Regions from separate parts of the Homo sapiens genome. Here region 2 is linked to region 1. The links come from fine-mapping of genetic effects on gene expression. A gene starts in region 1. The other region holds a variant in brackets. All regions are shown on one strand. Distances are from middle to middle.

What was found. PIP is the estimated chance that this variant, and not a neighbour inherited with it, causes the effect. A credible set is the group of variants that fine-mapping cannot tell apart.
Region 2: its variant is the best candidate, but not a certain one, in a credible set for the expression of CAMK1 in whole blood (INTERVAL, PIP 0.64).

Annotation. Positions count from the first base shown.
Region 1 is chr3:9,767,072-9,772,440 of GRCh38, reverse strand. CAMK1 (calcium/calmodulin dependent protein kinase I) reads left to right here and starts at 2,494. Exons shown (of 12, transcript NM_003656.5): 1 at 2,494-2,609; 2 at 4,660-4,774. The coding sequence starts at 4,692. It also overlaps a transcript of OGG1 not described here. RefSeq lists a silencer at 2,544-2,723.
Region 2 is chr3:9,708,208-9,713,576 of GRCh38, reverse strand. It overlaps CPNE9 (copine family member 9), which reads right to left. Exons shown (of 21, transcript NM_153635.3): 8 at 973-1,036; 9 at 749-852; 10 at 498-602. Among named protein-coding and RNA genes, the nearest start is that of CPNE9, 7.1 kb to the right of the region's middle. The variant T/C (reference allele first, on the strand shown) is at 2,928.

The sequences.
Region 1 (5,369 bases):
CCAGTTCCAGTCTCCAAGCCCCTAATCTCTGGTGTTTTTCCTGCAATCTTGTGCCAGCTATTGTGAACTATAGATTCCTCTTGGATGAAGCTGGTTTAGGTTGGCATTCTGTCACTTGGGAAGCGAAAGAATCTCATCAGTTAGTCTGTGTGTGTTTTCAATACATTATGGAATTTTCCTGCAATGACCATGTATCACTTGTTCAATAGAAATACTAAGAAAGTAAAGATAATGTGTTTGTTAAAGAAAAGAAAACACGAGGCCTCTCAGAAATGCTCAAAAGCAGGAAAAATGTAAAGCACACCATAGAAGCTGTACAAGTCAGCTGGGCGCGGTAGCTCATGCCTGTAATTCCAGCACTTTGGGAGGCTGAGGCAGGTGGATCACCTGAGGTCAGGAGTTCGAGACCAGCCTGACCAACATGGTGAAACCCCCATCTCTACTAAAAATACAAAAATTAGTTGGGCGTGTTGGTTCACGCCTGTAGTCCCAGATACTTGGGAGGCTGAGGCAGGAGAATTGCTTGAACCCAGGAGGCGGAGGTTGCAGTGAGGCGAGATGGCACCATTGCACTCCAGCCTGGGCAACAGAGGGAGACTGTCTCAAAAAAAAAAAAAAAAAAAAAAAAAAGAAGTTGTACAAGTCCTCGAAAGGACAGAGGTCATCTTATCACCCAGGGGGTGTTGTCATCAAGATGAACAGGAATTTGTGGTAAAAGAACCCCTAGCTCAGTGGGTGTGCTTGGTGGGTATAGGGGAGAGTGGGGGCTCAGCCCTGAGCAGGAAATGTATTTTTCCATGAACTAAGGAGTCTGAGATACTGAGATTTGGAAGATGGATCCCTTAACCCCTCATCCCTGGCCAAATCAAGTCCTCTCTCTGAGTCTCAGTTTACACTGAGTCTAGCTCTCATGTTTTGAATAGTGTTCTAGGCACTTCATATCATTATATCATAGAATTCTCAGAACTCTGAGTCAATCTTCAATATTCCCATGTTCCCGAGTAAGAAACTGAGGTTCGGAGAGGTAAAGCATGACCAGGATCAGTTAGACTCCAAAGCCTTTCCAGGAACCTCAGCTATCTTCCTCTCTCATCTGTAAGATGGGCATAATAAATTGGCCAGGTGCAGTGGCTCATGCCTGTAATTCCAGAACCTTGGGAAGCTGATTGGGGAGGATTGCTTGAGCCCAGGAGTTTGAGACCAGCCTGGGCAATATAGTGAGATCCCCATCTCTACAAAAAATAAAAAAGCCAGGTGTGGTGGCACGCACCTGTAGTCCCATCTACATGGGAGGCTGAGGTAGGAAGATGACTTGAGCCCAGGAGTTTGAGGCTGCAGTGGGCCGTGATCATGCCATTGCACTCCAGCCTGGGTGACAGAGCAAGACCCTGTCTTAAAAAAAAAAGAAAAAGAAAAAAAGAAGAAGAGAAAGAAAGAAAAAAGAAAGAAAGAAAGAGAAAAAGGAAATGAGCTGGGCATAAGCACTGTTCTCTCCCCATCACCAGCTGGAACATGCAAGAATTCAGGAGTAGGGAGTGGCACTTGGAGGCCCTTGGAGGTGGAGTGGGGTCCCAAGCAACGTGCCTCCTCCGGCTGCCCCCAGTTCAGCCCCATCCCCAATTCCTGCGAGTTGCTCCCCCCGCCCCCTCTTTCCACTCGGCACCAAATTTCTTCCCAAGGAAGGCCTTGAGCAAACCGACCTTTGGCCTCTTGCCTGCCGTCCTAGTTGCAGGCTCTCTCCCCTAACCTGGACCCCAGCCATCAAACTCTGGAGCCCCGCCAGTCACGTGACACCTCGGTCCTTTTTGGCCTGTTTCCTTCAGGATCCCGATTTAACTTCCTCCTCCCCAATTCCCTCTGCCCCCAATACCTCTAGGCACCACCACCCGCTCTGAGGAGCAAGTGTCTGGGGCTGAAGCCTCAGCTCCATCTTGCAGAGGAACCGGGGCCTCAGTCTTCCCACCTGTCAAGTGGGGCCCACACCCTGCGACCACCTCCACTCTCTTCATTGCCTAGTCTTGCCCGGTCCTTCCCCACTCCCTCACTCCCCCATCCCCCACCAGACTCCCGTGCAGTTCCAGGGCCTGTTTCCCTTCAGGGCACGGAGAAGGGAGACAGAGCCCTAAGGGAGGTCGCAGAACTGGTCTGAAAGAAAATCCACCAGGCCACAGGGTGAGTTTGGCCGGCCTCTAGCTTCAGACAGACGGGGTTCGAATCCTGCTTTGCTTCCGACCACCCGCTGATTTGAAAATCATCTCTCCGGGCCTCAGTTGTCCCCTCTGTGAAATGGACCCCGCTTAAGACCAAGGGCGGGAAGCGTCCAGCAGGAGATCTCTGACCAGAAGCAGGGAGATGGCCTCCACCCGTGCCCCTTCCCCAGCCTTGGAGCGGTGCCTCGCCTCCCAATCCCGGGTCCCTCCGCCGCAGGCTCCACCTCCACTGACATCAGAGCCGCAGGCGGGCGGAGAGAGCCGCCGAGCCGAGCCGAGCCCCAGCTCCAGCAAGAGCGCGGGCGGGTGGCCCAGGCACGCAGCGGTGAGGACCGCGGCCACAGCTCGGCGCCAACCACCGCGGGCCTCCCAGCCAGCCCCGCGGCGGGGCAGCCGCAGGTACAGCCGGGCCCCCCATCCCTGCACCCCTGGGCGCTGCGTGGGGGCGGTGGGAGCCCCTAGCCTCTGGGTATCCTTTCCCAAGGAGTGGCCACTGGGCACTCTCCCGGGCGGGCTGGACCCTGAGGGGCAGGGCTGGGCCTTTCTCCACCTCTGTCCCAGGCCCAGCAGGTGCCAGGCGGGCCTATGGGACACTGAGTGGGTAATAGAGAAGGGGGCCTGTGTGAGCGCCTTCAGCTGGGCCTGACTGGAAGGGCGTGGGCATTTGGAGGTATCCATGGGGTGGGGGGGCTTGCGGAGTGTACTGTCTTAGGACAGGCGTGTGGGTCAGACATGGGTGGAGGATCTGGGAATCTGTGTGTTTTTTGTTCCAGAGGGGTGTCCACGTGTTTTGTGTGCTGGTATTTGGCTCTCAGGGTCTTAAGTCAGAGTTAGGAGGGGGTGTACAATTGTGTACTGAGGATGTTTGGAGTTAGGTGTGTAAGGACTTGGGGTTTGGTTTGGAATACAGGAGCTTCCAGGGGATGGGGTAGAGGAGCTGGAGGGTGTAGGGTACGTCTGGTATATGAGGGTGTGTGTGTGTGTGTCTGGGTGTCATCTTGTGTGGGTGCGGGTGGATGTGTGTTTTGGGGTGTAAGAGGGAGCTGGGTGAGGGATGTTTGGATGGACAGGCAGGTGTTCGGGTGCAGGGCTGTCTGGGGCACTGTGTGGTGTGGACATGTGTGCTGATGTCTGGGAGTACATGTATGATCAGGTGTCACGGGATGTGGATACAAGGCGTACTGGATCTGGGAGGCAGGTGTTTGAGTTCAGGGCTGTGGAGGGGGCTTGGTGTGGCATGTCTGCTACAGGGATGTGTGTGGATCTGTGAGGGTTGTATTTGGTAGGCCTCCATGTGGGTTTCAGACTCTGCCTCTAGAGCTTACACTCGAGTCTCCTTTCCTAGAAGATTCTGCCCCTGGATGGGTGGGCAGGGTCCCCTGGGAAAAAGGTCCTGTTCCAGGAGTGGAATCTCACACCAGAGGCCCTAGTCAGGGCACCTTCTCCTCATTCTCCCTTAGAGAAAAAGAGAGAAGGAAAGTGCTCTCCCTGAGGTCACAAAGCATGCTGGGCTCTGTTTTGGCCTCATCTGTGGATGGGTTGGGAGGCTGTGTTCTCTGAATGGGGCCCATTCTGGCTTCATATTGGAAGTACCAGCCAAGGCCATTCGATGGCCTTTGCCCTCAGCAAGCTTAGCTGGGGGCCCCAGGCCAGGTGTCATTAGGGCCTCTGGAGCCAGCCTCTACCTAACTCCAACCTCAGTCTCCCCATTCTTCATCTGATAAATGGGAGAGAACTCCCACCCTCTCCTGCTGGATGAGACAGACCTCAGCAGAGGAAGGGCCAGGCTGGATAGGGTTAGATGGGGCCAGGAAGGGACAGAGTGAGCAGGACCATTTCTCATGCTCCCGGGACCCAGATGGGGAGTCAGGAGGGAGAGGTCTGGGGAGCTCCAGCTGTGGCTGTTGTTGCTGTGGTAACAGTGCAGAAAGAGCTATTTAAAAATGTGGCTGAGATGTTGCTGGAAGCCCAGGCTGCTGGAAACCTGATTTCGGAGAGGCCGGGGAGTCGGGGGAAGGAGGAGGGAAAGGAGACACCCCAGCAATCCCCAGGGTGGGGCGGGGACATCACTGGTTCTGGGGACAGGGGGATCCTCCAGGCTTCTACCAGCTGCTCTGGGGGTTTATCTGTTGTACTGCCAGAAGTCAGGGTTTCCCTAGGTGCTTGGATTTGGATAGGGGGAAAACTGGGAAGAGAACTAGAATAAATGAATGAATGAATGCATGACTTTGTTAAATAAAGAATTTTGCTGCCACTGTGAAAGGTTTTTCTCTAGGCATGAGAATTTGCTGAATGTTGAATAAACAAATGAATGTTTGTTGAATGATTTTGTCAAATGGATGAATCAAGGATGAATAAATGCAGGTTGAATGACTGAATGGGGCCTGCAGTAAATTCCCAGACAGAGGGCTGGGCTCTGCTGAGTCTCCTCCTTCCATTCTCCTTACAGGAGCCCTGGCTGTGGTCGGGGGGCAGTGGGCCATGCTGGGGGCAGTGGAAGGCCCCAGGTGGAAGCAGGCGGAGGACATTAGAGACATCTACGACTTCCGAGATGTTCTGGGCACGTGAGTCCAGGGCAGGATTGGGTGCTGGATGGCTGAGGGAGGCTGAGTCCAGGGTGGGGCTTCCTCTGGTCAATTAATGCTTCCTGTTTCCCACAGCCCAGGCCCTGTGGCAGCACTATCTAGGGCCTAAACTGTCCCCAGCTTTTCACTTCTGGATGACAGTGGGTGGGACACGGGCTGCTCTCCCAATAGCCCTGGGTTCTTGAAGAGAAAGAAGTCGAGAGAATGAAGGTGCCAGTCAGTCCATTTAACTTGCTGCCAAGAGCTAAGTGTTCTAGCCTAGGTTTGGGAACTGAGGCTGGAGATGGCTCTGTTCTTGGTGCTGGGAATGCAGAAATAACTCAAACCTGGTCTCTGCCCTTCAAGTTGATCCCAGACATGTGCAAGAGACAGACCTACAGAAAATGACAACAGGGTGTGTGCTGTGCTCCAATTAAGGTTGGGATTGAGGGCTTTGTGGAGCCCAGAGAGAGCTGTGCCTTCTGCCTGGGGGAAAACTTCCTGGAGAATGGGGCATTAGAGCTGGGGACTGAAGGATGGGTAGGTGTGCACTTGTCAGAGAGGAAGAAGGACATTCCAGGCAGAAGGAATAGCA
Region 2 (5,369 bases), 59 kb after region 1:
CCATCAAACTCTCATTTACCAATTTATCACCCACCCATCCATCAGCTCATTCATCCGTTAATCACCCATCACCTGTATATCCACAAACCCACCCATCAGTCCAATTATCCATTCTTCTGCTGTCCATTCATTTATCTGCCCCTCTACCCACCCATCAATTCACTCATATATCCATCCACATACATATCCAACCATTCACCAGTTTACCCATCCAACGATCCATCCATGTATCTGCTTATTCATTTGTTCATCTGCCTTTTCATCTACCCATCCACCTACCATTCCATCCATCAGTCGATCCATCCCTGGATAGTCCACCTATCCATCTGTGTGGCTATCCATCTGCCTGTCCATCCACCCAACCTCATGCCCCAAACTCTGTCTCACTGAGCAGGACCCTCCAACGCTATTATGATACTTCTACTATCATTCTTGGGCCCAGGAACCACACTGGCATGTCCTTGGCTCCTTACTCCCCAGCTTATGCTGGAGCCAACCTGTCATAGTCTCCATTGCACAGAGCCCGCACAGGGATGCTGAAGGGCTGCCACACAGGATTCAGCGTGTTTTTCACAACCTCTGTCTTGTGGCAGATGGTGAACCTGGAGGGGAGTGGGAAGAATTGGTATAATTTATCTCGTGCCCGGGGTAGGACTGAATCCAGATGCTCTCAGAGATTCCTGAGATTCCCCCACTTGTTAAGCACATGGCCCACCCCAGCCTAACAGCCCTGATGGCAGTGACTCACGTGCCATCCTCATTGCTCCTGTAGAACACAAGGAAGGGGTCTGATTTCCCAAAGAAGTCCTTCTTGTCCAGCTTGTTTGCACACAGCTGCATGGTGGCAATGTCCTAGGGATGGATGAAGTTGGGCTGGTGGCACCCCAATTGTCCATAGCCTTCAGACAGTCCATTAAAGGGTTTACGGGGAGAGAAGGGAGCTCCTGGGTCTAGCATGTGGCCCTTACTGACCCGACAATTGCTAAGCTCTTCTGCAGTCAGCAATATGGTCCCACACTTCTTGCCTGGTACACCCCTGGAAGCAGAAAAAGCCTCTTAGTGAGAGGAGGGAGGGTAGGCAACAAGGATTGAGTGGCCAGTCTGGGGTTAGGTGGGCCAGGGGATTCAGTTTGCCATTTACTGACAGTCCCTTGTGTCTTGAGTGCCTTCTGGTGAGGAAGGGCCTCACTTTGACTGGGTGGGGTCTGCAGTCTGGTGAAAAGGGGTTAGAACAGCTTAGGTGAACATCTCACAACAGTAGCATGAGAAAGACATGGGATTTAGAGCCAGTGGATTTTATGATTGTTAAGCTGTGTGACCCTGGGCAAGTTATTTACCCTTCCTCGGCCTTAGTCTTTTTCTCTATGAAATGGGAATCATGATGACTTGTCAGGGCTGTGAACAGATCTGAATGAGTGCATGGAAGGAAAAGCAACTCGTAAGCCTTATAGATATGAGCTGGTTGTAGTCTTCAAAGCTGACTCTGGTTCTTACTATATGCTGGGTGCTGTGATAGATATGAATTGGGCAACTGGCTCTCTCCGGCTCTGCTAGACTGCCCGCAGGGAGCTTTGGGGGCGGGGGTAGGTGGAATGTCAATGCCAATAGGTAAGTAGAGTGGATTGTAGTGATACTGAATGAGGGAGAAGAATTTCTGTCCAGACCCAGGGACAAAAGGGCTAGCTTGTTAGGTCAAAGCTGATGTGCTTTCTGAAGACCATGGAGAGGGAGATTTAAAAGACAAGGGAAACTTTATCCTTTCCTGACCCTAGAAGGAACACTTCCATGTGCTTGAATGGTGCATACGAGAACCCCCATCCCCAGCAGTAAGAGACCTTGTTGATAGGGGCCTGTGAACCCTGATTCCCAAAGGGATCCAAAATGTGGCAGAGAGAAAACTAGGTCAGGAGGGTCCTGGGTTCCAGTCCTGGCTCTAACTTGCTATGTGATTTTCCCTATCCTTAGAATGAGAGTTGAACTATTTCTTTGGCTCCTTTGATCTTTGACTCTTTGTGCTTTGCAAAGAGGGAGTGTGATGAGAATAGGTTCTATTCGCCTACGGCTGGGCGCGATGGCTCACGCCTATAATCCCAGCACTTTGGGAGGCCTAGGCGGGCGGATCACCTGAGGTCGGGAGCTCGAGACCAGCCTGACCAACATGGTGAAACCCCATCTCTTCTAAAACTGCAAAAAAAAAAAAGAAAAAATTAGCTGGGCGTGGTGGCGGGCGCCTGTAATGCCAGCTACTCGGGAGGCTGAGGGAGGAGAATCGCTTGAACCCGGGAAGCAGAGTTTGCAGTGAGCTGAGATCAAGCCCTTGCACTCCAGCCTGGGTGACAGAGTAAGACTCTGTCTCAAAAAAATAAATAAATAATTCGCTTGCACATCCAGGACCAACAAATTGTTGATCCTGTTGCCTCCTCACTGTTCTTTGCCTCTTTGATGTTCTCCCTTACCACCTCATCCATCCAGTGTGAATTCCAGTCAGTGATTATAATAATCATTCCCTTGCATCCTGTCTCTTTTTTCCCTTCTCTCACTTTTTTTTAAGAGTTGGGGTCTCACTATTACCCAGGCTGGAGTACAGTGGCACAATCATAGCTCACTGCAGCCTCAAATTCCTGGACTCAAGAGATCCTCCCACATCAGCCTCTCAAGTAGCCGAGACTACAAGTGCACACACTACACCTGGCTAATTTTAAAATTTTTACTTTTTTAGAGACAAGGTCTGGCTATGTTACCCAGACTGGTCTTGAACTCCTGGCCTCAAGAGATCCTCCTGCCTCAGCCTCCCAAAGTGCTTTGATTACAGGCGTGAGCCACTGGCCCAATCTTTTCTCTCACTTTCGATATATTTACTTGGCAGAACCACAGCTCTAGTTAAGCCTCACTCTGCCTAACCCACACTGCACCTGTGAAACTGAACA[T/C]GGCCAGACAAAAACACAATTATGCGAACTTGTCTCATTTCAAATGCATGATGCAGACTTCAAGAGGGTCCTTATTGCTACCTCAGAGTCATACTGTACATCCCAAGGCCCTTCACTCTCCAGTTCTGGTAGATGGCAGTTTCACTCCTTCTTTCTCCTCAACCCCTAAAGCCTCCTCCCCCATCCTCATTCTCAGCCAATGACCTTGTTTCCTACTCACTGAACAAAATTGAAGCAACCAGAAGAGAATGTCCACCCACCACCACACCTACCTTGCCACCAGTATCTTCACCCACACAAGTGTGACTCCTACAGTTGCTATAAATGAAGTGTCTTTGTGCCTATTTATCCCTCCACTGTGTACTATATTTCATACTGTCTTGTCTGCACGAGAACATCACTTCAGTAATGCTCACCTCTTTTTATTACATCAAGTTTTCAGTTTCTACTTGGTCATTCCCATCAATATGTAAATGTAGTATAATTTTCCCTTTTTTTTTGTAGAGATGGAGTCTCACTATGTTGCCCAGGCTGATCCTGAACTGGGCTCAAGTGATTCTCTCACCTCAGCCTCCAGAGTAGCTGGGATTACACTATGCCCGGCCAATGTAGTATAATTTATCTCATGTTAAATTTTTTTTTTCTTTTTTTTTTTTTTTTGAGATGGAGTCTTGCTTTGTCGCCCAGGCTGGAGTGCAATGGTGTGATCTCGGCTCACTGCAACCTTTGCCACCTGGGTTCAAGTGATTCTCCTGCCTCATCCTCCCTAGTAGCTGGGATTACAGGCACGCTCCACCATGCCCAGTTAATTTTTGTATTTTTAGTAGAGACAGAGTTTCGCCATGTTGGCCAGGCTGGTCTTGAACTCCTGACCTCAGGTGATACACCTGCCTCCACCTTTAGGAGGCCTCGGCCTCCTAAAGTGCTCGGATTACAGGTGTGAGCCACCTCACCCAGCCTTATGTTAAAAAATTATAAACTTGGCTAGGCGTGGCAGCTCACGTCTGTAATCCCAGCACTTTGGGAGGCCAAGGTGGGTGGATCACGAGGTAAGGCGTTCAAGACCAGCCTGGCCACGGTGGCGAAACCCCGTCTCTACTAAAAACTACAAAAATTGGCTGGGCGCGGTGGCAGGCGCCTGTAATCCAAGCTACTCGGGAGGCTGAGGCAGGAGAATCGCTTGAACCCGGGCAGCAGAGGTTGCAGTGGGCCAAGATCACACCACACCACTGCACTCCAGCCTGGGCGACAGAGTGAGACTCTGTCTCAAAAAAAAAAAAAAAAATTATAAACTTATTCTTGACCTCTCTTCCTGCTTCAGCCACATCTCTTTTTCTTTTCTTTTCTTTCTTTTTTCTTTGTTTTTTTTTTTTTGAGATGGAGTCTCCCTCTGTTGCCCAGGCTGGAGTGCAGTAGCGTGATCTCGGCTCACTGCAACCTCCGCCTCCCGGGTTCAGGCGATTTTACTGCCTCAGCCTTCTGAGTAGCTGGGATTACAAGCGTGCGCCACCACTCCCAGCTAAGTTTTTTGTATTTTTAGTAGAGATGGGATTTCACTATTTTGGCCAGGCTGGTCTGGAACTCTGGACCTCAAGTGAGCCACCCACCTCGGCCTCCCAAAGTGCTGGGATTACAGGTGTGAACCACCGCCCCTGGTCACACATCTTTTCTTTTCTCCCCTTTGCTGTAAAACTCCTTGAAAGTTTCCTTGACTTGGGCCGGGTGCGGTGGCTCACGCCTGTAATCCCAGTACTTTGGGAGGCCGAGGCGGGCGGATCATGAGGTCAGGAGATCGAGACCAACCTGGCTAACACGGTGAAACCCCATCTCTACTAAAAATACAAAAAAAATTAGCCGGGCATGGTGGCGGGTGCCTGTAGTCCCAGCTACTCCGGAGGCTGAGGCAGGAGAATGGCGTGAACCCGGGAGGCGGAGCTTGCAGTGAGCCGAGATCTCCCCACTGCACTCCAGCTGGGTGACAGAGCGAGACTCCGTCTCAAAAAAAAGATTCCTTGACTCCTTTCCCGCTCTTCCATTGTCTTCACCTCCACCTCTCCTTCAAAACTGTGCTTAAGAGTCAACAGGGATTTTCATCTTGCTAAATGCAATGGCCAATTCCCAATCTTCATCTTATTTGAGCTGTAGCAGCATTTGATGTGGTTGGTAACTCTCTCCTTCTTGATAACCCTTCTCTTTGCTTCCATGACATCACCCTCTCTTGGTTCTTCTCCTACTTCATTAATTGCTCCTTCTCAGTCTTCTTTTCTAGGTCCAATTTGTGGAGCCTTGGCCTTTGGTTCTCTCTCTCTCGTCTCCCTCTTTCTCTCTTTTTCTCCCGTCCTTCCTCCCCTCCTTTGGTGATCTCATCTAATAGCATGGCTTTAAAGTTAACATCTAAGGCCGGGCTCAGTGGCTCATGCCTATAATCCCAGCACTTTGGGA